4 separate regions of the Homo sapiens genome follow, and all the other regions are linked to region 2. Evidence: fine-mapped expression QTL. A gene starts in region 2. Each other region holds a variant in brackets. All regions are shown on one strand. Distances are between the middles of the regions.

Region 1 (6,201 bases), 38 kb after region 2:
GTGTTTTGATTGGAGACTTTAGTCCATTTATATTCAATGTTTTATTAATAAGTAAGGATTTACTGCTGCCATGTTGTTTGGTGGTCTTCTCTTCCTTCTTTCCTTCCTTCCTGTCTTCCTTATTGTGAAGGTGATTTTCTCTGGTTGTATATTTTAATTTCTTTTTAAAAAATTTTTTGGTATCTGTTGTAGGTTTTTGAATTTAGTTTACCATGAAGCTTCCATGGTAAACTATATCTTATAACCCATTATTTTAAACTGATGACAACACTGATCCCATAAACAAATAACAAACAAGAGAAAAACTAATAAAAACATTACACTTTAACTATGTCACCCAGCTTTTAAATTTTTTGTTTCTATGTATATCTTATTGTACTGTCTATGTCTTGAAAACTTGTTGGAATTGTTTTTGATAGGTTCATATTTTAGTCTTTCTACTCAAGATATGAGTTTACACATCACAGTTACATTGCTACTATATTGTTTTTTTTTTCTGTGTAGTTACTATTACCAGTGAGTTTCGTGCCTTCAGATGATTTCTTGTTGCTCATTAACATCCTTTTAGATTGCAGAACTCCCTTTAACATTTCTTGTAAGACAAGTCTGGTGTTGACAAAAATCTTTCAGCTTTTGTTCATCCAGAAGAGTTTTTATTTCTCTTTCATGTTTGAAGGATACTTTCAGCAAATACACTATTCTAGGATAAAAGTTTTTTCCTTCAGCACTTTAAATCCATCATGCCACTCTCTCCTGGCCTATAAGGTTTATACTGGGAAGTCTTCTACCAGGCATATTGGAGCTCCTTTGTGTGTTGTTTCTGTTCTTTTGCTGCTTTTAGGATCCTTTCTTTACCCTTGACCTTTGGTAATTTGATTACTAAATGTCTTGAGGTAGTCTTCTTTGGGTTAAATCTGCTTGGTATTCTACGGCCTTCTTGTACTTGAATATTGATATCTTTCTCTTGGAAAGATAATCCTTCCTAATATCTTTGGGAAATTCTCGATATTATCCCTTTGAATAGACTTTTTTAAAATTATTATTATACTTTAAGTTTTAGGGTACATGGGCACAACGTGCAGGTTTGTTACATATGTATACATGTGCCATGTTGGTGTGCTGCACCCAGTAACTCATCATTTAGCATTAGTTATATCACCTAATGCTATCCCTCCCCCATCCCCCCACCCCACAACAAGCCCCAGTGTGTGATGTTCCCCTTCCTGTGTCCATGTGTTCTCATTGTTCAATTCCCACCTATGAGTGAGAACATGCAGTGTTTGGTTTTTTGTCCTTGTGATAGTTTGCTGAGAATGATGGTTTCCAGCTTCATCCATGTCCCTACAAAGGACATGAACTCATCATTTTTTATGGCTGCATAGTATTCCATGGTGTATATGTGCCACATTTTCTTAATCCAGTCTATCATTGTTGGACATTTGGGTTGGTTCCAAGTTTTTGCTATTGTGAATAGTGCCACAATAAACATACACGTGCATGTGTCTTTATAGCAGCATGATTTATAATCCTTTGGGTATATACCCAGTAATGGGATGGCTGGGTCAAATGGTATTTCTAGTTCTAGATCCCTGAGGAATCGCCACACCAACTTCCACAATGGTTGAACTAGTTTACAGTCCCACCAACAATGTAAAAGTGTTCCTATTTCTCCACATCCTCTCCAGCACCTGTTGTTTCCTGATTTTTTAATGATCGCCATTCTAACTGGTGTCAGATGGTATCTCATTGTGGTTTTGTTTTGCATTTCTCTGATGGCCAGTGATGATGAGCATTTTTTCATGTGTTTTTCGACTGCATAAATATCTTCTTTTGAGAAGTGTCTGCTCATATCCTTTGCCCACTTTTTGATGGGGTTGTTTTTTTTCTTATAAATTTGTTTGAGTTCATTGTAGATTCTGGATATTAGCCCTTTGTCAGATAAGTAGGTTGTAAAAATTTTCTCCCATTCTGTAGGTTGCCTGTTCACTCTGATGGTGGTTTCTTTTGCTGTGCAGAAGTGCTTTAGCTTAATTAGATCCCATTTGTCAATTTTGGCTTTTGTTGCCATTGCTTTTGGTGTTTTAGACATGAAGTCCTTGCCCATGCCTATGTCCTGAATGGTATTACCTAGGTTTTCTTCTAGGGTTTTTATGGTTTTAGGTCTAACATTTAAGTCTTTAATCCATCTTGAATTAATTTTTGTATAAGATGTAAGGAAGGGATCCAGTTTCAGCTTTCTACATATGGCTAGCCAGTTTTCCCAGCACCATTTATTAAATAGGGAATCCTTTCCCCATTGTTTGTTTTTTCAGGTTTGTCAAAGATCAGATAGTTGTAGATATGCGGCATTATTTCTGAGGGCTCTGTTCTGTTCCATTGGTCTATATCTCTGTTTTGGTACCACTACCATGCTGTTTTGGTTACTGCAGCCTTGTAGTATAGTTTGAAGTCAGGTAGCATGATGCCTCCAGCTTTGTTCTTTTGGCTTAGGATTGACTTGGCAATGCGGGCTCTTTTTTGGTTCCATATGAACTTTAAGGTAGTTTTTTCCAATTCTGTGAAGAAAGTCATTGGTAGCTTGATGGGGATGGCATTGAATCTATAAATTACCTTGGGCAGTATGGCCATTTTCACGATATTGATTCTTCCTACCCATGAGCATGGAATGTTCTTCCATTTGTTTGTATCCTCTTTTATTTCATTGAGCAGTGGTTTGTAGCTCTCCTTGAAGAGGTCCTTCACATCCCTTGTAAGTTGGATTCCTAGGTATTTTATTCTCTTTGAAGCAATTGTGAATGGGAGTTCACTCATGATTTGGCTTTCTGTTTGTCTGTTATTGGTGCATAAGAATGCTTGTGATTTTTGCACATTGATTTTGTATCCTGAGACTTTGTTGAAGTTGCTTATCAGCTTAAGGAGATTTTGGGCTGAGACGATGGGGTTTTCTAGATATGCAATCATGTCATCTGCAAACAGGGACAATTTGACTTCCTCTTTTCCTGATTGAATGCCCTTTATTTCCTTCTCCTGCCTGATTGCCCTGGCCAGAACTTCCAACACTATGTTGAATAGGAGTGGTGAGAGAGGGCATCCCTGTCTTGTGCCAGTTTTCAAAGGGA[G/A]TGCTTCCAGTTTTTGTCCATTCAGTATGATATTGGCTGTGGGTTTGTCATAGATAGCTCTTATTATTTTGAGATACGTTACCATCAATATCTAATTTATTGAGAGTTTTTAGCATGAAGGGTTGTTGAATTCTGTCAAAGGCCTTTTCTGCATCCATTGAGATAATCCTGTGGTTTTTGTCTTTGGTTCTGTTTATATGCTGGATTACGTTTATTGATTTTCGTATGTTGAACCACCCTTGCACCCCTGGGATGAAGCCCACTTGATCATGGTGGATAAGCTTTTTGATGTGTTGCTGGATTCGGTTTGCCAGTATTTTATTGAGGATTTTTGCATCAATGTTAATCAAGGATATTGGTCTAAAATTCTCTTTTTTTGTTGCATCTCTGCCAGGCTTTGGTATCAGGATGATGCTGGCCTCATAAAATGAGTTAGGGAGGATTCCCTCTTTTTCTATTGATTGGAATAGTTTCAGAAGGAATGGCACCAGCTCCTCCTTGTACCTCTGGTAGAATTCGGCTGTGAATCCATCTGGTCCTGGACTTTTTTTGGTTGGTAAGCTATTAATTATTGCCTCAATTTCAGAGCCTGGTCTATTCAGAGATTCAACTTCTTCCTGGTTTAGTCTTGGGAGAGTGTATGTGTCGAGGAATTTGTCCATTTCTTCTAGATTTTCTAGTTTATTTGCGTAGAGGTGTTTATAGTATTCTCTGATGGTAGTTTGTATTTCTGTGGGATGGGTGCTGTTATCCCCTTTGTCTTTTTTTATTGCATCTATTTGATTCTTCTCTCTTTTCTTCTTTATTAGTCGTGCTAGTGGTCTATCAATTTTGTTGATCTTTTCAAAAAACCAGCTCCTGGATTCATTGATTTTTTGAAGGGTTTTTTGTGTCTCTATTTCCTTCAGTTCTGCTCTGATCTTAGTTATTTCTTGCCTTCTGCTAGCTTTTGAATGTGTTTGCTCTTGCTTCTCTAGTTCTTTTAATTGGATGTTAGGGTGTCAATTTTAGATCTTTCCTGCTTTCTCTGGTGGGCATTTAGTGCTATAAATTTCCCTCTACACACTGCTTTGGACGTGTCCCAGGATTGTGGTATGTTGTGTCTTTGTTATCGTTGGTTTCAAAGAACATCTTTATTTCTGCCTTCATTTCGTTATGTACCTAGTAGTCATTCAGGAGCAGGTTGTTCAGTTTCCATGTAGTTAAGTGGTTTTGAATGAGTTTCTTAATCCTGAGTTCTAGTTTGATTGCACTGTGGTCTGAGAGACAGTTTGTTATAATTTCTGTTCTTTTACATTTGCGGAGGAGTGCTTTACTTCCAACTATGTGGTCAATTTTGGAATAGGTGTAGTGTGGTGCTGAAAAAAAATGTATATTCTGTTGATTTGGGGTGGAGAGTTCTGTAGATGTCTATTAGGTCCGCTTGGTGCAGAGCTGAGTTCAATTCCTCGATATCCTTGTTAACTTTCTGTCTTGTTGATCCGTCTAATGTTGACAGTGGGGTGTTAAAGTCTCCCATTATTATTGTGTGGGAGTTTAAGTCTCTTTGTAGGTCACTAAGGACTCGCTTTATGAATCTGGGTGCTCCCGTATTGGGTGCATATATATTTAGGATAGTTAGTTCTTCTTGTTGAATTGATCCCTTTACCATTATGTAATGGCCTTCTTTGTCTCTTTTGATCTTTGTTGGTTTAAAGTCTGTTTTATCCGAGAGTAGTATTGCAACCCCTGCCTTTTTTTGTTTTCCATTTGCTTGGTAGATCTTCCTCCATCCCTTTATTTTGAGCCTATGTGTGTCTCTGCATGTGAGATGGGTTTCCTGAATACAGCACACAGATGGGTCTTGACTGTTTATCCAATTTGCCAGTCTGTGCCTTTTAATTGGAGCATTGAGCCCATTTACATTTAAGGTTAGTATTGTTATGTGTGAATTTGATCCTGTCATTATGATGTTAGCTGGTTATTTTGCTCATTAGTTGATGCAGTTTCTTCCTAGCCTTGATGGTCTTTACAATTTGGCATGTTTTTGCAGTGGCTGGTACCAGTTGTTCCTTTCCATGTTTAGTGCTTCCTTCAGGAGCTCTTTTAGGGCAGGCCTGGTGGTGACAAAATCTCTCAGCATTTGCTTGTCTGTAAAGTATTTTATTTCTCCTTCACTTATGAAGCTTAGTTTGGCTGGATATGAAATTCCGGGTTGAAAATTCTTTTCTTTAAGACTGTTGCCTTCTTTAGAATATTTATTTAGGGTATTGTGACAAAGTCAAAAGGTGATGCAGGACAAAAATCATTATATGCAGGACATGTCCTGTATGTATAGGAATCTTGGAAATTTTATTAGTGATGTCTTTCATGCTACTAACACATTTGAAAAACACCTACTGAGAGCTCGTATGTGTTCCTTGGATGTGTATTTTAACAGTGAATTATCAAGACAGCACAACTTCACTGTTGATTTTTACCATTCTGATATCTTCTTTACAATTGCTCAGCATTTTCAGGAAAAAAGAGTCACATTTTGTTGACAAAGTGTGGTCAAGATCACAACACAACCATATGCTTAACTTCATTCTTTCACTTATACTTTAGTATTCAGGCTCAAACTTTACTGAGATCTTAACTTTGTCCATCTATCACAGATATTTCCTTAGAGCAATTTCTTTCATTATCTTCAAATAACTACGGAATCATTATTAATAGCTGTCAGGATTTTTCCCCCGGGGATAATCTCACCTCCTAACACAGACACCATACTTACAATGACAATGACAGGTTAAATGGTAATTGCACTGTGTTTTGCTGTGATGGAGACATCACTGATTACCCAGGCAGGAAGAGTTTTCTGAAGAAATCTGTCCACTGGTTTCAGGGAGACTCCACATCATCCCTCTTCCTTCTTCCACTCCAAGGCCTTGTTTGGAATATTTTCTCTTCCGTCTCTGACCAAACTGAAGCTCACAAAAGTTACTGTAAAGCTTGAGTGCACACATATTTAAAAAGCAACAAGGTAATAGTTATTAGCTTCTAGCTGTGAGTGTACGCAAAGAGACATTGTGGTGTGGTGTATCTATTTAGTTTTGCAGCT
Region 2 (6,201 bases):
CGGACAGTCCCGTGGGACTGAGACTTCACCCTGTGGGATCTGATGTCCACTGCAGAACTACTTGGTGTATGAGGAAAACCATCCACACATTATCTAGTCACAGAAGTACTCTGTGTTGATTGTTGTGGGGGAGAGCAGAGCAAAAGCAATTTGTATTTTTTTCCACGCAGAATGGCCAAAACAAACCTCCTGATAGCCTCAGTGAATATTACACCTGCTATCAACTTGCTCATCTCAGTTGATGCAGCTCCCATTGCTACAGCTGCTAAGATAAAAAACCCAGGGGTGTTTCCTGAATCCTCTCAAGCTCTCACTGTTCACATTTAAAAATTGAGTTGCCAGGCTGGGCACGGTGGCTCAAGCCTGTAATCCCAGCACTTTGGGAGGCCAAGGCGGGTGGATCACGAGGTCAGGAGTTCGAGGCAGCCTGGATAATATGGCGAAACCTAGTCTCTACTAAAAATACAAAAATTAGCTGGGTGTGGAGGCGCGCGCCTGTAATCCCAGCTACTTCGGAGGCTGAGGCAGGAGAATCGCTTGAACTCAGGAGGCGGAGGTTGCAGTGAGCCAAGATTCCACTATTGCACTCCAGCCTGGGCAACAGGTCCAGACTCCATCTTGGGAAAAAAAAAATTGACTTGCCCCTCTAAAAAACACAAATCCAGATCTAGCCACATTGCCTAAGCCACAACTCTAGTCCATTAATCCTCACCTCGACTAGGGCAGTAGCTTCCAGTTTGATCTTCCTCCTCCCTCAACCCCACAGTCTGTTGCCCACTCAGTAACCAGACAGCGCCTATTAAGAAATTGGTAACATCACCTCACCCCTCTAGTTTCACTTCTAAGTAAGTATTTGCACACCCCAGTATCAGTTCCTGGGTGAACCCTCCACATGTGTTACATTAGTTGACAGACATAGCAACAACTCCCCATAACCTATGTCACTGATGTAGGTTTGGGGTTTGAGGTTTTTCCAAGATCCCCAGATTGAAGGACCGGAGAAATGGCACTTAAGTGTCCTAGGAGGTGCGGTAGTTCCTGCTTGGCATCCCAGCACTTTGGGAAGCCGAAGCAAGAGGACTGCTTGAGCCCAAGGGTTCGAGACTAGCCTGGGCAACATGGCGAAACCCCATCTCTCTCTCTCTCTTTTTTTTTTTTTTTTCAGACGGAGTCTTTCTCTGTCGCCCAGGCTGGAGTGCAGTGGCGCGATCTCGGCTCACTGCAACCTCTGCCTCCCGGGTTCAAGCGATTCTCCTGCCTCAGCCTCCCAAGTAGTTGGGACTACAGGTGTGTGCCACCAGGCCTGGCTAATTTTTTGTATTTTTAGTAGAGGGGGGATTTCACCGTGTTAGCCAGGATGGTCTCAAACTCCTGACCTCGTGATCCGCCCGCCTCGGCCTCCCAAAGTGCTAGGATTACAGGCGTGAGCCACCGCGCCCGGCCGTGAAACCCCACCTCTACTAAAAATACAAAAAGCCAGTTACTCGGGAGACTGAGATGAGAGGCTCTCCTGAGCCCGGAGAGGTCGAGGCCGTGCTGCGCCGTGATCGCGTCACCGCAACCCAGCCTGGGTGTTGAGTGAGAACCCGTCGCCGAAAAAAAAAAAAGATGCCAAGATCTAGACATGTGGGATAGGATGAGGACCAGTGAAGGACTAGAGCATCCCCTACTTCCTACTGTGGATTCTGTAAGTGCTTCTGTAGCCATGAGGTGTGCCAAAAGGCAGGGCTTTCACAAATGTGTCTGTGCTCGGATTTGATAGACTCAGGCTTCTCTGTAAGCTTTTTTTGGCCCTGCAGCCAGATGACTTCAGACTGAGTCTCTAATCTTGTGGCCCAGTGCTCAATGTCACCTCTCAATGATTCAACCTCTCAATGTCCTCATCACTGCCTTCAACTCTGTTCTTCCTTCGAACATCTTTTGGGAATCGCAACTCTAACACAGATTTCCTCCTTTGTTCAAAACTGTCCATGGCTTTTAGCGTCCTCACAGTCAAAGTTCAACCCTCAGCCTGGTACTGAAGAAACAACTCCGCCTCGGCCAGGCGCGGTGGCTCACGCCTGTATTCCCAGCACTTTGGGAGGCCGAGGTGGGCGGATCACCTAAGGTCAGGAGTTCGAGGCCAGCCTAGCCAACATGGTGAAACCCCGTGGTGGCGCATGCCTGTAATCCCAGCTACTCGGGAGGCTGAGGCAGGAGAATCGCTTGAACCGGGGAGGTGGAGCTTGCAGTGAGCCGAGATCGCGCCACTGCACTCCAGCCTGGGCGACAGAGTGAGACTCCGTCTCAAAAAAAAAAAAAAAAAGAAATAACTCCGTATCACACTTCTTTCCCAGTAGACACACGATGTCCCCGTGTTCCGCATCCTCCTGCCTCAGTCGCGCCTGCAGGCCTTTGCCCTCCGCCAGTCTCGCTCTGCCGACCGCATCAACTGGGTGTCGGAAACAGGGATCCCACCCGCCGGCGCCTCTCCGTCCCTGACAGAGGCCTGGGCTGCAGGGACGCGAGGAGGCGGCCCTCACGATCAGGGGCCTCAGGGTCTGGGTGGGTAGGGTGGGTAAGGCCCGGAGGTCGCAGCGCTCACCTGAGCAGGCGCCCTCAGAGCGGCTGCTGCCGCCATGACTCTGGGCGGGGGGGGAACGCGGGCTCGGCGGTGTTCCTGTCGTTGTCCTGTCCCGGGTCGCGACCAGCGGCGTCGCCGAACCTCAGATCCGCCTGTGTGCAATGGCCACAACCACTCCTCCCGAGCTCGTCCAGACCCAGCATCGCCGGATGGACCTGACAGGCCAAAATGGCTGCCACGGCTAGGACGCCGGAAGTCCTGGCTTGACTTTACGTGCCCCGGCAATGGCACGGCTTCTCTGAAGCTTCATTGGCTCAGCCACGTTACCATTTCGCAGGGCGGATTCTGGGTAATGTAGTTCCCAGACATGGGCAGCGCTTAAGGTGGCTTTCTTCCGACTTTCCGAAGAAAGGGGCAAGCTCCACTGCGAGGGGCGCTAGGAAATGGCGACTCCAGGTCCAGATGCGGAGGAGGGTCTCCCATCTTAGAAGAGGCCATACGCACATTTCTGGGGGTACTGTGTGCAACTGATTGCCCGCGTGTTTGGAGACTTCTTATTTCAGAATTTGTGATGCTCGGCTTCTTCCTTTTTTTTTTTTTTTTGTCTTTTTTTTAAGACATAGTTCTCTCTGTCACTCAGGCTGGGGTGCAGTGGTGTGATCTTGGCTCACTGCAGCCTATGCCTCCCGGGTTCAAGCGATTCTCGTGCCTCAACCATCCGAGTAGCTGGGATTACAGGCGTGTGCCACCATACCCTGCTAATTTTTGTATTTTTAGTAGAGACGGGGTTTCCTCATTTTGGCCAGGCTGGTCTCGAACTTCTGGCCTCAAGTGATCTGCCTGCAATGGTCTACCGAAGTGCTAGGATTACAGGCGTGAACCACCGTTCTCAGCCCATTAGCAACACTTTTATTTATATCTTTAACCTACAGATTCCTCTAGAAATCTGATATCAACATCAAAAAGCTAATGAGACAAATGCTATTATGTTACAGGACAATGGCTGCGGTGTTCAAACATGGAGTATGTATGCATGAGAGAAGAGAGAGACCCTCTCACATTGTTTTATATTCAGTAAAAACAACAAGGAAGTAAAACCAAAGACAGGCAACCCCGCGCCAGGCCCGAAACCAGGCCTAGGCCCGCCTGGCCTAAACCCAGTAGTTAAAAATCAACTTATGATTTAGAAGCCGATGTTATTCATAGATTCCTTAGATTGTATAGAAGAACATTGTGAAACTCCCTGCCCTGTTCTGTTCCTCCCTGACCACCGGTGCATGCAGCCCCTGTCACATACCCCTTGCTTGCTCAAATCAATCACGACCCTTTCATGTGAAATCTTTAGTGTTGTGAGCCCTTAAAAGGGACAGAAATTGTGCACTCCGGGAGCTCAGATTTTGAGACAGTAGCTGGCCAATGCTCCCAGCTGAATAAAGCCCTTCCTTCTGCAACTCGGTGTCTGAGAGGTTTTGTCTGCGGCTCGTCCTGCTACATGCACAGGGTGCTTTTACACTGAGATATTTCAAGTGCCTTAAATCCATGCGTTCACCTCTTTGCTGGCAAGTGCTTATCATTGTCAGTGGCATTGGAATCAGAGTGACTCCATCTTGAAAATGGGCTGGATAAAGTAAGGCTGAGAAATACTCGGCTGCATTCCCAGGTTAGGCATTCTTAGTCACAGGATGAGATAGGAGGTTGGCACAAGATGCAGGTCACAAAGACCCTGCTGATAAAACAGGATGCAGTAAAGAAGCTGGCTAAAACGCACCAAAACCAAGATGGTGATGAAAGTGACCTGTGGTCATCCTCACTGCTCATTATACGCTAATTATAATGCATTAGCATACTAACTCCCGCCAGCGCCATGACAGTATACCAATGCCCTGGCAATGTTTGGAAGTTACCCTATATAGTCTAAAAAGGGGAGGGAACCTCAGTTCTGGGAAATCTCCACCTCTTTTTTTTTTTTTTTTTTTGAGATGGAGTCTCGCTCTGTCACCCAGGCTGGAGTGCATTGCTGCGATCTCGGCTCACTGCAACCTCCGCCTCTTGGCCAAGTTCAAGTGATTTTCCTGTCTCAGCCCCCCGAGCAGCTGGGATTATAGGCGCCTGCCACCGCGCCCAACCTGTAAAATTTTCTATACTTAAAAAAAAAGTTGGCTGGGCGCGGTGGCTCACACCTGTAATCCCAGCACTTTGGGAGGCCGAGGCGGGCGGATCACGAGGTCAGGAGATCGAGACCATCCTGGCTAATATGATGAAACCCCGTCTCTACTAAAAATACAAAAAAATTAGCTGGGCGTGGTGGCAGGCGCCTGTAGTCCCAGCTACTCCGGAGCCTGAGGCAGGAGAATGGCTTGAACCCGGGAGGCGGAGGTTGCAGTGAGCCGAGATCACGCCACTGCACTCCAGGCTGGGGGACAGAGCGAGACTCCGTCTCAAACAAACAAACAAACAAACAAACAAAAAAGTTGGCCGGGTGCGGTGGCTCATGCCTGTAATCCCAGGACTTTGGGAGGCAGAGGTGGGCGGATCACGAGGTCAGGAATTCGAGACCAGCCTCACCAACATAGTGAAACCCCGTCTCTACTGAAAATAGAAAAATTAGCTGGGTGTGGTGGCGCATGCCTGTAATCCCAGCTACTCAGGAGGCTGAGGCAGGAGAATCACTTGAACCCAGGAGGCGGAGGCTGCAGTGAGCCAAGATCGCGCCACTGCACTCCAGCCGGGGTGACAGAGGACAGAGTGAGGCTCCGTTTCAAAAAAAAAAAAAAAAAAAAGCTTTCTTGGATTATGCTTTGTATAAATTAAATTGGATATTTAGTGTAAACTTTATTCAGTAATGGAGGTGAGGGTTTCCAGTAGTATTTCTTTCCCCAAACAATCATTTTCTCAGATTTCCCGTGAGTTGGCTCATAAACATGTTGTACCATAAGAAATTGAAATCTCAAAGGCAAGATGGGTCTCCTGTTGGGTCCACACCAAAATTTGTAAATGGGGGAAAAGCATTACCGCTTTGTTAGCCATATCTACTTTTTCTTATCTGAAGCCTCTTTTTGAATCCCTTGGAGTTCCTGTTCAATGGCACTTATTTTGAATGTAGTGACTTTTATAGTTTCATGTGATATTGGTGTCAAGAGAGTCTTTTTGCTGCTGCATCTGCGAAATAATTTTTTTTTACTCTTTGGAGAGGTGAGTTTGAATGTTCAGGAACGTTAATAAAACATTCTTTTTTGATAATCGGATGGCTTCTAAATGATCAGAAACTTGAGAGCCATGTTTAATTAGATATCTGGGGGAGGTTAAGTAACCTCACTGGCCAGGCACAGTGGCTCATGCCTGTAATCCTAGCACTTTGGGGGACAGTGGGGGGGTGGGGGGTGGGGGGGCGGATCATGAGGTCAGGAGTTCGAGACCAGCCTGACCAACATGGTGAAAACCTGTCTCTACTAAAAATACAAAAATTGGCCAGGCATGGTGGCTCATGCCTTTAATCCCAGCACTTTGGGAGGCCGAGGTGGGCAGATCATGAGGTCGGGAGATAGAGACCACGGTGAAACCCCGTCTGTACTAAAAATACAAAAAATTAGCTGGGCGCCGTGGCGGGTGCCTGTAGTCCCAGCTACTCGGGAGGCTGA
Region 3 (6,201 bases), 61 kb before region 2:
TTCAGATGTAACACAGCACACTGCCAGCTGTGGTGGTTACGGTCAGAGACCCCACCTGCTTGAGAATAACAGAGGAAAAAGTAAAGGGGACCTTGTCTTGCACCTCAGCTGCCAGCTCAACCACAGAGGGATAGAGCACCAAGAAGCCTCTTGGGGTCCCTGATTCCAGGCCTTGGCTCGTGGATGACATTGCTGGACCTGCCCTGGGTGAGTCTTGAAGAGTCAGCCTCAGACCAGGCAACATTCACCACAAGCTGACTGAAGAGCTCTTAGCCCTTAATGGAACCTCAGTGGTAGTCTGACAGCACTCCCTGTGGGCCCGTGCTGGTGGTGGCCACAGAGTGAGGCTGCTCTGCCTGTGGAAAGGGGATGGAAGAGTGGGAAGGGCTCTAGCTTGTAGTTTGAGTGCCAGCTCAGCTGCAGTGCAAAGGAACACCAGGTAGATTTCTAAGGATTTTTACTCCAATCCCTGGCTCATGGATGGCATCTGTATACCAACCTGAGGCCTGGGGAACTCACCGTCCTAAGGAGAAGGACATAAGCCTGTCTGGCTTTGCCACCTGCTGACTGTACAGGGCTAGGGCCTTGAGGGAACACAGGCGATAGCCATGTAGTGGTCACAGGAGCCTTGGGTGAAACCCAGTGCTGTGCTGGCTTCAGCTCTCACCCAGCACAGTCCCAGTGGTGGTAGCTAAAGGGGTGCTTCTGTCCCAACCCCCAGTTTCAGGCACTTCAGCACTGACAGAGACATGCTGGGACAAAGTGAGGGAAGACCCAACAAGAGTCTCTACCTGTTATGTTAATCAAGGGAAATCTTTCAGATCTTATTCAAGACCACAAAGGTGGTACAGCTCTCTGAGTCTGCAAGAGTCACAGCATTACTGAGTGTGGGGTTCCCGCTAAAGTAGATTCAGCTTAGATCACAACACCCGGGTCCTTTCAAATACCTGGAAACTCTTCCTAAGAAGGACAGGTACAAATGAGCCCAGACTGTGAAGACCACAATAAACACCTAACTGTTTAATGCCCAGACACTGACGAATATCTACAAGCATCAACACCATCCAGGAAAACGTGACCTCACCAAACAAACTAAATAAAGCACCAAAGACGAATCCTGGAGAAACAGAGATACGTGACCTTTCAGACAGATAATTCAAGATAGCTATTTTGAGGAAATTCAAAGAAATTCAAGACAAACACGGAGAAAAAATTCAGAATTCTATCAGATAAATTCAGCAAAGAAATTAAAATAATTAAATAGAATTGGCCGGGCACAGTGGCTCACGCCTGTAATCCCAACACTTTGGGAGGCCAAGGCGGGCGGATCACAATGTCAAGAGATTGAGACCATTCTGGCCAACATGGCGGAACCCCGTCTCTACTACAAATGCAAAAATAAGCCGGGCATAGTAGTGCATGCCTGTAGTCCCAGCTACTCGGGAGGCTGAGGCAGGAGAATGGCATGAACCCGGGAGGTGGAGCTTGCAGTGAGCCGAGATCGTGCCACTGCGCTCCAGTCTGGGCGATAGAGCGAGACTCTGTCTCAAAAAAAAACAAAAAGAAAAAGACAATTTGTATTTCACAGGGCACTCTGCTATAAAGGGTAAGATGTTTTGTTTAGTAAACAAATAAAAAAATAAAGACAGCCAGGCACGGTGGCTCACGTCTGTAATCCCAGCACTTTCGGAGGCCGAGGCGAGCGTATTGCCTGAGCTCGGGAGTTCGAAACCAGGCTAGGCAACATGGCGAAACCCCGTCTCTACTAAAAATACAAAAAATTAGCCGGGCATGGTGGCGGGTGTCTGTAATCCCAGCTACTTGGGAGGCTGAAGCAGGAGAATCGCTTGAACCCGGCAGGCGGAGGTTGCAGTGAGCCGAGATCACGCCACTGTACTCCAGGCTGGGTGACAGACTGAGACTCTGTCTCAAAAAAAAAAAAAATAAATAAATAAAATAAGCTGGGCTCGGTGGCTCGCGCCTGTAACCCCAGCACTTTGGGAGGCCGAGGCAGGTGAATCACCTGAGATCAGGTGTTCGAGACCAGCCTGACCTACATGGAGAAACTCCATCTCTACTAAACATACAAAAAATTAGCCAGGTGCAGTGGCGCATGCCTGTAATGACACCTACTCGGGAGGCTGAGGCAGGAGAATCGCTTGAACCCAGGAGGCGGAGATTGCGGTGAGCCGAGATCACGCCATTGCATCCAGCCTGGGCAACAAGAGTGAAACTCCGTCTCAAAAAAATAAAAAATAAAGACTGCATCTAACGAGGTAAGGTCACCAACGAGCACACTGTTCCACTATCAGTTCTCACTAGAGGATTCTGTGATGTAATGCCCAACCTTGTTTTTACTAACCCTGTTTTTAGATTCTCCCTTTCCTTTAATCACCTAGACTTGTTTCCACCTGAATTGACTCTCCCTTACATAAGAGAGCCAGACAGACTCCATCTTGGCTCTTTCACTGGCAGCCCCTTCCTCAAGGACTTAACTTGTGCAAGCTGACTCCCAGCACATCCAAGAATGCAATTAACTGATAAGATACTGTGGCGAGCTATATCCGCAGTTCCCAGGAATTCGTCTGATTGATAACGCCCAAAGCCCCCCATCTATCACCTTCTAATAGTCTTAAAGCCCCTGCACCTGGAACTGTTTACTTTCCTGTAACCATTTATCCTTTTAACTTTTCTTGCCTACTTTACTTCTGTAAAATTGTTTTAACTAGACCCCCCCTCCCCTTTCTAAACCAAAGTATAAAAGAAAATCTAGCCCCTTCTTTGGGGCCGCGAGAACTTTGAGCGTTACCCATCTCTTGGCCGCCGGCTAAATAAACGGATTTTTTTTTAAATAAACGGACTCTTAATTCGTCTCAAAGTGTGGCGTTTTCTCTAACTCGCTCAGGTACAGTGACTATAAAAGATTAGGCCTTCAGCAGCTCAAAAGGGCTGTCCTGACAGTCACTCCTAATAAAAACTCAGCATCTGCTGCCTATGGCTCTGCCACCT[T/C]AAAGACTCTTCCTTGCAAGACTACAGGCTTTTGGGTGATGATGAGGTGACCTGAGGGCATGGAAGGCACCACAATTACCTGAGCAGAGAGCCTCAGCGTGGCCACCACCGCCATCGAACCACGTGGTTTAAAGCAGGGTTGGGAGGAGAGGGTGACCAGCCAGGAGATATGGGCATGACGGTCCCTATCCTGGCCCAGGGGTGGGTCACGCTTGGCGCCGTCACAGAGCTCCAGAGTCGCCTCTGTGCAGCAGAGGACAACTGTTCTCCGCCTTCTGGGTTCAGTCACCGCAGTGCCGACCTAGCGCTCAGGAGCCTCTCCGACAAATAAACCCAACACCAATCAAAATGGCCGCCACCAGAGGGCGCCGGAAGTCCGGACCCATTGTCACGTGCACACAGGAAATGCCTTTATTCTGAGCCCCCATGGCTCTTCCACTCTGTCATTCCATGCGGAGTTTTCTGGGTAATGTAGTTCCCTAGGTAACAAGGAGGGTAAAGGGCACAATTCCCAGAGGCGGTTCTGCAGGAAAAGCCCAGCTCCACCTCAGGAGTATCCTTAAGATATGCGCCCTGACTGGTATGGTGGCTAGCTCCTGTAATTCCACCAGTTTGGGAGGCCAAGTCAGAAGGATCATTTGAGGCCAAGAGTTAGAGATTAGCCTGAGCAACAAAGCAAAATCCTGTTTGAAGGGGGCCTGCCCCTCCATACCTATGGGTATCTCTCATCAGGTGGAGACGAGAGACTGAGAAAAGAAATTAGACACAGAGAAAAAGTATAGAGAAAGAATAGTGGGCCCAGGGGACTGGCACATTCAGCATGTGAGGACCTTCACCGGCGCCGGTCTCTGAGTTCCCTCAGTATTTATTGATCATTATTTTTACTCTCTTGGTGAGGGGAGTGTGGCAGGGCAACAGGGTGATGGTGGGGAGAAGGTCAGCAGGGAAACACGTGAGCAAAGGAATCTGTATCATGAATAAGTTCAATGAAAGGTACTGTGCGTGGATGTGCACATAGGCCAGATTTATGTTTCACTTTAAACAAACATCTCAGTGTAGCAAAGAGCAACAGAGCAGTATTGCTGCCAGCATATCTCGCTTCTAGCCACAGGGTAGTTTTCTCCTATTTCAGAATACAACGAATGGGAATGGTTGGCTTTACACCATGACATTCCATTCCCAGGAATGAGCAGGAGACAGAAGCCTTACTCTTATCTCAACTGCAAAGAGGCCTCCCTCTTTCACTCCTCCTCCTCAGCACAGACCCTTTAAGGGTGTCCGGCTGGGGGATGTAAGGTCTTTCCTTTCCCATGAGGCCATATCTCAGGCTGTCTCAGTGGGGGAAACCTTGGACAATACCCAGGCTTTCTCAGGCAGAGGTCCCTGCAGCTTTCCGCAGTGCATTGTGTCCCTGGTTAATAGAGAATGGAGAATGGCGATGACTTTTACCAAGCATACTGCCTGCAAACATATTGTTAACAAGGCACATGCTGCACAGCCCTAAATCCATTAAACCTTGATTCAATACAGTACGTTTCTGTGAGCACAGGGTTGGGGCTAAAGTTACAGATTAACAGCATCTCAAAGCAGAACAATTTTTCTTAATACAGATCAAAATGGAGTTTCTTATGGCTTCCTTTTCTACATAGACACAGTAACAATCTGATTTCTTTTCCCCATATCCTGTCTCTGCAAAAAATAAAAAATATTAGTGGGGTGAGGTCAGGCAGGCCAGTGGTCCCAGCTGCCCCAAGGTTGGGGTTAGGGTTAGGGAGCCTGAAGGAGGGAGAATCGCTTGAGCTCAGGAGTTTGAAGCTGCGGTAAGCCGAGATCGTGCCACTGCACTCCAGCCTGGGCAACAGAGCAAGACCTCTTCTCTAAAAAATAAAAATAAGGGCTGGGTGTGGGTGGCTCACGCCTGTAATCCCAGCACTTTGGGAGGCTGAGGCGGGTGGATCACCTGAGGTCAGGAGTTCAAGTCCAGTCTGGCCAACATGGTGAAACCCCGCCTCTACTAAAAATACAAAAATTAGCTTGGCATGATGGCATATGCATATAATCCCAGCTACTCAGGAGGCTGAGGCAGGAGAATCTCCTGAACCCAGGAGTCAGAGGTTGCGGTGAGCTGAGATTGTGCCACTGCACTCTAGCCTGGGCGACAGAGCAAGACTCTGTATTGGAAAAAAATAAAATTAAATAAATAAATAAATAAAAGATTGCAGATCTTTCTACTGGGCAGAGGATCATCCTGCCTTTCCTTAAAACTCCTATTGAGATTTCTTGCAATTATTAGCTGTAGCTGATTACCCTAGTGTATGGAAAAATATTATTTCAGAGTTAGTGTAGGTGCTCCCAAAGGCTATAGATCTAAATTCACCTATCATTTCAAGTGGTCCTTTGATGCAAAATTCTTCCACTGGAAGCAGAGATTAATGCAAAGGTTAATAACCATTATTGTATTGTTAAAATGAATGTGTAAACACCCAGCGGGTTCATTTTGCCCACTGCCCAGATAGAGCCAATTTATCAGGACAGGAGAATTGTAAAAGAAAGAGTTTGATTCACACAGAGTTGGATGAACAGCAGACTGGAGTCTTATTAATATTACTCAAATCAGTCTTCCTGAAAACTTGGAGACTGGGTTTTTTTGTTGTTGTTTATTTGTTTGTTTGTTTTTTTGAGATGGAGTTTTGCTCCTGTTGCCCAGGCTGGAGTGCAAGGTCATGATCTCGGTTCACTGCAACCTCCACCTCATGAGACTGGGGTTTTTTAAGGATAATTTGGTAGATAGGGGGCCATGAAGTGGGCAGTCCTGATTGGTTGGGTTGGAGATGAAATCGTAGGTATAGCAGGACAAGCTGCAGACTAAACCCCTCAGACACCGAGTTAAAGAAGGAAGGGCTTTATTCAGCTGGGAGCTTCGGCAAGACTCACATCTCCAACAACTGAGCTCCCCAGGTGAGCAATTCTCGTACCTTTTACGGGCTCACAACTCTAAGGGGGTCTGTGTGAGAGGGTCGTGATCGATTGAGCAAGCAGGGGGTACATGACTGGGGGCTGCATGCACTGGTAATTAGAACGGAACAGAACAGGACAGGGATTTTCACAATGCTTTTCTATATAATGTTTGTAATCTGTATAACATTACTGATTAGGTCAGGGGTCGATTTTTCTTTTTTTTGATTTGAGTCT
Region 4 (6,201 bases), 29 kb after region 2:
GGCGTGAGCCACTGCGCCCGGCTTTTTTTTTTTTTTTTTTGAGACAGAGTCTTGCTGTGTCGCCCAGGCTGGAGTGCAGTGAGGCAATCTCAGCTTACTGCAACCTCCACCTCCTGGGTTCAAGCAATTCTCAGGGCTCAGCCTCCCAAGCAGCTGGGATTACAGTGCCATTACGCCCGGCTAATTTTTTTTTTTTTTTTTTCTTTGAGACGGAGTTTTGCTCTTGCTGCCCAGCGTGAAGTGCTATGGCACAATCCTGGCTCAACACAACCTCTGCCTCCCAGGTTCAAGCAATTCTCCTGCCTCAGCCTCCCGAGTAGATGGAATTATAGGCATGTGCCACCACGCCCGGCTAATTTGGTTGTGTGTGTTTTTTTTTTTTTTTTTTTTTTTTTAGTAGAGATAGGGTTTCTCCTGTCTCTACTAGAAAAAAAAAAGGGTCAGGCTGGTCTCCAACTCCCAACCTCAGGTGATCCATCCACCTCGGCTCTCCAAAGTGCAGGGATTACAGGCATGAGCCACCACATCTGACCGATTATCTATTCTTAAGTGTATTACTATGCTGTTTTACTTATAATCCTGATATCTCTCATTTTTGTTATTTTTGAGACGGAGTTTCTTGCTCTTGTTGTCAGGCTGGAGTGCAATAGCACCATGTCAGCTCACTGCAACCTCTGCCTCCTGGATTCAAGTGATTCTCCTGCCTCAGCCTCCCTAGTAGCTGGCTAACTTTGTATTTTTAGTAGAGACAGGGCTTCTCCATGTTGGTCAGGCTGGTCTCAAACTCCTGATCTCAGGTGATCCACCTGCCTCAGCCTCCCAATGTTCTGGGATTACAGGCATGAGCCACCATGCCTGGCCTCTAAATGTTATCTTGTATGACAGCATGATATATAGGCACATAAAAGCAAGATGCTTTAGAAATGTAAATAAAAGATTATAAATTACAAATGGCAATGTAATCAGGGATGTAAAGAATCTCAATACCTAAATGTTACCTTGCATGACAGCAAGTTATATAGGCATATTTCATCTTCACTATCAGTAATATTTTGCTTTCTTCTTTCTAGAAATATCTGTGATGATTCTTAATCAACATAGGACTCTACAGTAATGTCTAGAAGTTTAAAATTGTGTGTTCCAATTATATTATGACTACACACACTGGAAGGTATATTTCTATCTATTGTGGAGTAAAATTTTCTTGATTATACCCTGCTTATGCTCCCACTAAACCTTTGTAATCAGCAAATTTAAAAGCCCAAGTCTCTGAGTAGCATTTGTGCTTCTGTGTGGCCAGTATGACCCCACCTCCATTCTGTCTAACAGCCCCTTGGGGTTCTGAATATGCTGGTTGTGTGGATCACATCTCTCCCTCTTGGGTTTGTTGTCAGTGTGGTATATATTTATGTCGGCTCAGGCTGTCAATAGGTGCCAGTACCCAATGCCTCTTACACAGAGTCCTATAGGTATAACAGGGGCACCTCTAGGATGGACTGAGATTTTTTTTTTTTTTTTTGAGACAGGGTCACTCTTTTCCCCAGACTGGACTGTGGTGGCATGATCTTGGCTCACTGCAACCTCCGCCTCCCTGGTTCAAGCAACTCTCCTGTATCAGCCTCCCGCATAGCTCGGACTACAGGTGAGCGCAACCCATGGCTAATTTTTGTATTTTTAGTAAAGACAGGATTTCTCCATGTTGGCCAGGCTGGTCTCAAACTCTTGACCTCGTGATCCACCCACCTCGGCCTCCCAAAGCGTTGGGATTACAGGCGTGAGCCACCGTGCCCTGCCGGACTGAGGTCTTTAAATACTGCACACCTGTCACACAGGGTCCCTGGGATATGTGTTTTGTCTATAGGCTGTGCTGCAGTATAACCCTCAGGCACTTGTCACACACCAGGAGCATACACTCTTTGAAATTTTTGCTTCCAGACTGTACCACAGCATGCTGGGAGAATGTAATCCAACTGTGTGTTTCTGGCTGTGTCATAATCACACACTTATGTGGGACTACCCCTGAATCACCCATTTCAAGAATATCTAGTTTGCTTATGGCTTATACATGTGTAAACAACTTAAATCATATCAGAGATATGCACAAAAAATTAGAGTATAATAAATTCTAATACAAAAATTACACAATTTCAAGAAATAAATAAAATTTTGGCCAGGCGCGGTGGCTCACGCCTCTAATCCCAGCACTTTTGGAGGCCAAGACGGGTGGATCATGAGGTCAGGAGTTCAAGACCAGCCTGGCCAAGATGGTGAAACCCCGTCTCTACTAAAAATACAAAAATTAGCCGGGCGTGGTGGTGGGCGCCTGTAATCCCAGCTACTTGGGAGGCTGTGGCAGAGAACTGCTTAAACCTGAGAGGCGGAGGTTGCAGTGAGCCAAGATTGCACCATTGCACTCCAGCCTGGGTGACAGAGAGAGACTCCGTCTCAAAAAAAATAAAAAAATAAAATAAAATTTAAGGCCAGGCATTGTGGTTATGTATGTAATCCCAGCACTTTGGGAGGCCAAAGCAGGTGGATTGCTTGAGCCCAGGAGTCTGAGACCAGCCTGGGCAACATTGTGAAACCCAGTCTCTACAAAAAATAAAAAATAAAAGCTTAGCCAGGCATGGTGGTGCTTGCCTGTAGTCCCAGCTACTTGGGAGGCAGAGGTGGGAGGATCACCTAGCCCAGGGAGGTCCAGGCTGCAGTTAGCTGTAATTGTGTCACAGCACTCCAGCCTGGGTGACAGAGTAAGACCCTGTCCCACACCCCGCACAAAAAAGGAATTTTAAAAAGGAAAGTCATACCTGTAGATTAATAGAGATATATGAGACAGAACTACTAAAAGTCATGGGGATAAATTTGGGAATTTCTTTCTTTTTTTTTTTTAATTTTTGTATTTAGTAGAGACAGAGTTTCACCATGTTGGCCAGGCTGGTCTCAAAATCCCAACCTCAGATGATCCACCCGCCTCAGCCTCCCAAAGTGCTGGGACCACAGGCGTGAGCCA[C/T]CACGCCCACATTTGGGAATTTCATTGCAATGAAGCTGCTTAAAGAACAAAGATATTTTTGAGACAATAGAAAAAATGGACGATGATAACATATTTTGTTATGCTTTAAACATTTCTGATGGAACCAGTTGTAGGTGTTATGAAAGAGCCCTTGGACTTTGGAAATACCCTGTGAAGAGATTATGCATTAAGCGATGTCAGGAAGCTGGGCGCTGTGGCTCATGCCTGTAATCTCAGCACTTTGGGAGGCCGAGGTGGGTGGATCACCAGAGGTCAGGAGTTCTAGACCAGCATGACCAACATGGTGAAACCTTGTCTCTACTAAAAATACAAAAATTCACTGGGCGTAGTGGCAGGTGCCTGTAATTCCAGCTACTAGAGAGGTGGAGGCAGGAGAATCACTTGACATGCTGGGATTACAGGCGTGAGCCACCACGCCTGGCCTAGATTCTTTACATATCTGATTACCTTACTATTTCCAATTTACAATCTTTTATTCATGTTTCTGAAGTGTCTTTCCTTTCACTAATGGGAGAGGAAGTATTAACTCTTTCACTCATCAAACACAAGTTAGTAAAATACCAGAGACTCAATTTGCAAATCATGCCCCCAAAAAGACAAAAATGCATAACCAAAAAATGTTATAAAGACACTAAATGGCCACTCAAATACTTTAAACAGTCTTCTTCATTTCCCACTGGTAAAGATCTTACAGTGGACTTTGTGAGGCTTAATATTTTCAGTCAGTAATGGAAGGAAGAATATTCAAAGAAGGTTTCAGAGGAAATATAGAGGAGAGGCATAAGGCAAGGAGAGGAGGTTGCACCATGTCTCCAGGTCCCTCAGAGTATGTCTCAACCTCAGAGCAGAACTGGTTCCTTCTGATTGTAACACTCTGTAGGGACCAGCCCCACAGGGTCGGTGGGTCTCTCCCTGTGTGCGGTGACGAGAGAGTGTAGAAATAAAGACACAAGACAAAGAGATAAGAGAAAAGGCAGCTGGGCCCGGGGGACCACTACCACCAATGCGCGGAGACTGGTAGTGGCCCTGAATGTCTAGCTGCACTGTTATTTATTGGATACAAAGCAAAAGAGGCAGGGCAAAGAGTGTGAGTCATCTCCAATGATAGGTAAGGTCATGTGGGTCATGTGTCCACTGGACGCGGGGCCCTTCTCTGCCTGGCAGCCAAGGCAGAGAGAGAGAGGGAGAGAGAGAGACAGCTTACACCATTATTTCTGCATATCAGAGACTTTTAGTACTTTCACTAATTTTGCTACTGTTATCTAGAAGGCAGAGCCAGGTGTACAGGATGGAACATGAAGGTGGACTAGGAGCGTGACCACTGAAGCACAGCATCACAGGGAGATGGTTAGGCCTCCGGATAACTGCGGGTGGGCCTGACTGATGTCAGGCCCTCCACAAGAGACGGAGGAGCAGAGTCTTCTCTAAACTCCCCCCGGGGAAAAGGGAGACTCCCTTTCCCGGTCCGCTAAGTAGCGGTTGTTTTTCCTTGACACTAAGGCTACCGCTAGACCAGACTTCCCAGATGCTGGCATCACCGCTAGACCAAGGAGCCCTCTGGTGGCCCTGTCTGGACATAACAGAAGGCTCGCACTCTTGTCTTCTGGTCACTTCTCACTGTGTCCCCTCAGCTCCTATCTCTGTATGGCCTGGTTTTTTCTAGGTTATGATTATAGAGCGAGTATTATTATAATACTGGAATAAAGAGTAATTGCTACAAACTAATGATTAATGATATTCATATATAATTACATCTATGATCTAGATCTAGTATAACTCTTGTTGTTTTATATATTTTATTATACTGGAATGGCTCATGCCCTCGGTCTCTTGCCTCAGCACCTGGGTAGCTTGCTGCCCACAACACTCACCTGGGAATAGTTGGTATTTACTAATTCACATTTACAAAACCGTGGCTGGAGTGTCAGCATTCCTGCCATGGGGAAAGTGGATATTTGAACCCTGAGAAAAGATTCTGGGTACAATAATCTCACCTTCTTGCTGGGAAGGAACTATCATTTCAGCAGTAAGTACAATGATAGTTTCGGCATGGGGACTGGAGATTACCTCTGGAAAACAGCTTGGACTGAGAAAATTAGTTAATATTGTGGATAAATGAAGTTACCACTGAGAATGACATAAGTAGCTAGAAAAGTTTCTGTGAAGTCTGAGAACACATAAATCTCAATGGATAGTGAGCAGAGGACATGGGGCTGTAAGTTCTGAGATAATTAAGTGGAGCCCATGGCTATCCTAGAGACTTGACTAACATGAAATTCTTATTTCTACAAAGTGTGTATTATTTCAATTTCTGAGAACTCAGGAAAAACCAACTGAGAGCCAAGGAAATAGTAAGGTAAGACTAGAAAGATGTCATAGAACAGAAAGAAAGCGATGGTGGCATCATATTGATTCAATGTCTTGGAATCTGCATCTTGTCACCTGGGGACACATTCTTTGATACAAAATGGAGGACCAGCTCATAGCTCCTGTGGTATTGAAAAACAAGTACTCCGGCCAGGCGTGGTGGCTCACGCCTGTAATACCAGCACTTTGGGAGCCCGAGGCGGGCGGATCACGGGGTCAGGCCATCGAGACCATCCTAGTCAACATGGTGAAACCCAGTATCCACTAAAATACAAAAAAATTAGCCAGGCGTGGTGGCGCACTCCTGTAGTCCCAGCTACTTGGGAGGCTGAGGCAGGGGAAATCACTTGAACCTGGGCGGAGGAGGGTGCAGTGAGCCGAGATCGCACCACTGCACTCCAGCCTGGTGACAGAGCAAGACTCCATCTCAAAAAAAAAGAAAAAAGAAAAAAAAAGTATTCCTTACAGTAAAGGAATGATATCACTGAAGAATATATTAGGTTCAAATATGTCTTTGTTTTACTTTTTCTTATTTCTTATTGAAATGGAAATAGAAAAAAAATTATTTTAGTATCAGGGTAATACCAACCTTGTATGATGAATTTAGAAGTATTTTCTCCTCCTCTTATTTTTGGGAATAGTTCGAGTAGGATTGGGGTTAGTTCTTTAAATGTTTGGTAAAATTCAGTAGTGAAGCCATTGGGTCCCAGGCTTTTCTTTGCTGGGAAAATTTTTATTACAGCCTCAATCTCATTGCTTGCTATTTGTCAGTTCAGGTTTTGGATTTCCTCATAATTCATCTT

Evidence for each region. PIP is the estimated chance that this variant, and not a neighbour inherited with it, causes the effect. A credible set is the group of variants that fine-mapping cannot tell apart.
Region 1: its variant is the best candidate, but not a certain one, in a credible set for the expression of ZNF586 in T cells (TOPMed, PIP 0.67).
Region 3: its variant is the best candidate, but not a certain one, in a credible set for the expression of ZNF586 in whole blood (TOPMed, PIP 0.87).
Region 4: its variant is the best candidate, but not a certain one, in a credible set for the expression of ZNF586 in whole blood (Lepik 2017, PIP 0.90).

The regions. Positions count from the first base shown.
Region 1 is chr19:57,728,260-57,734,460 of GRCh38, reverse strand. No RefSeq gene overlaps it. Among named protein-coding and RNA genes, the nearest start is that of ZNF671, 3.7 kb to the right of the region's middle. The variant G/A (reference allele first, on the strand shown) is at 3,120.
Region 2 is chr19:57,766,262-57,772,462 of GRCh38, reverse strand. ZNF586 (zinc finger protein 586) reads right to left here and starts at 2,787. Exons shown (of 3, transcript NM_017652.4): 1 at 2,585-2,787. The coding sequence starts at 2,620. RefSeq lists enhancers at 2,553-2,802, 2,524-3,063.
Region 3 is chr19:57,827,452-57,833,652 of GRCh38, reverse strand. ZNF587B (zinc finger protein 587B) reads right to left here and starts at 3,354. Exons shown (of 3, transcript NM_001376223.1): 1 at 3,089-3,354. The coding sequence starts at 3,124. It also overlaps the pseudogene FKBP1AP1. The variant T/C (reference allele first, on the strand shown) is at 3,010.
Region 4 is chr19:57,736,910-57,743,110 of GRCh38, reverse strand. No RefSeq gene overlaps it. Among named protein-coding and RNA genes, the nearest start is that of ZNF776, 6.8 kb to the left of the region's middle. The variant C/T (reference allele first, on the strand shown) is at 3,011.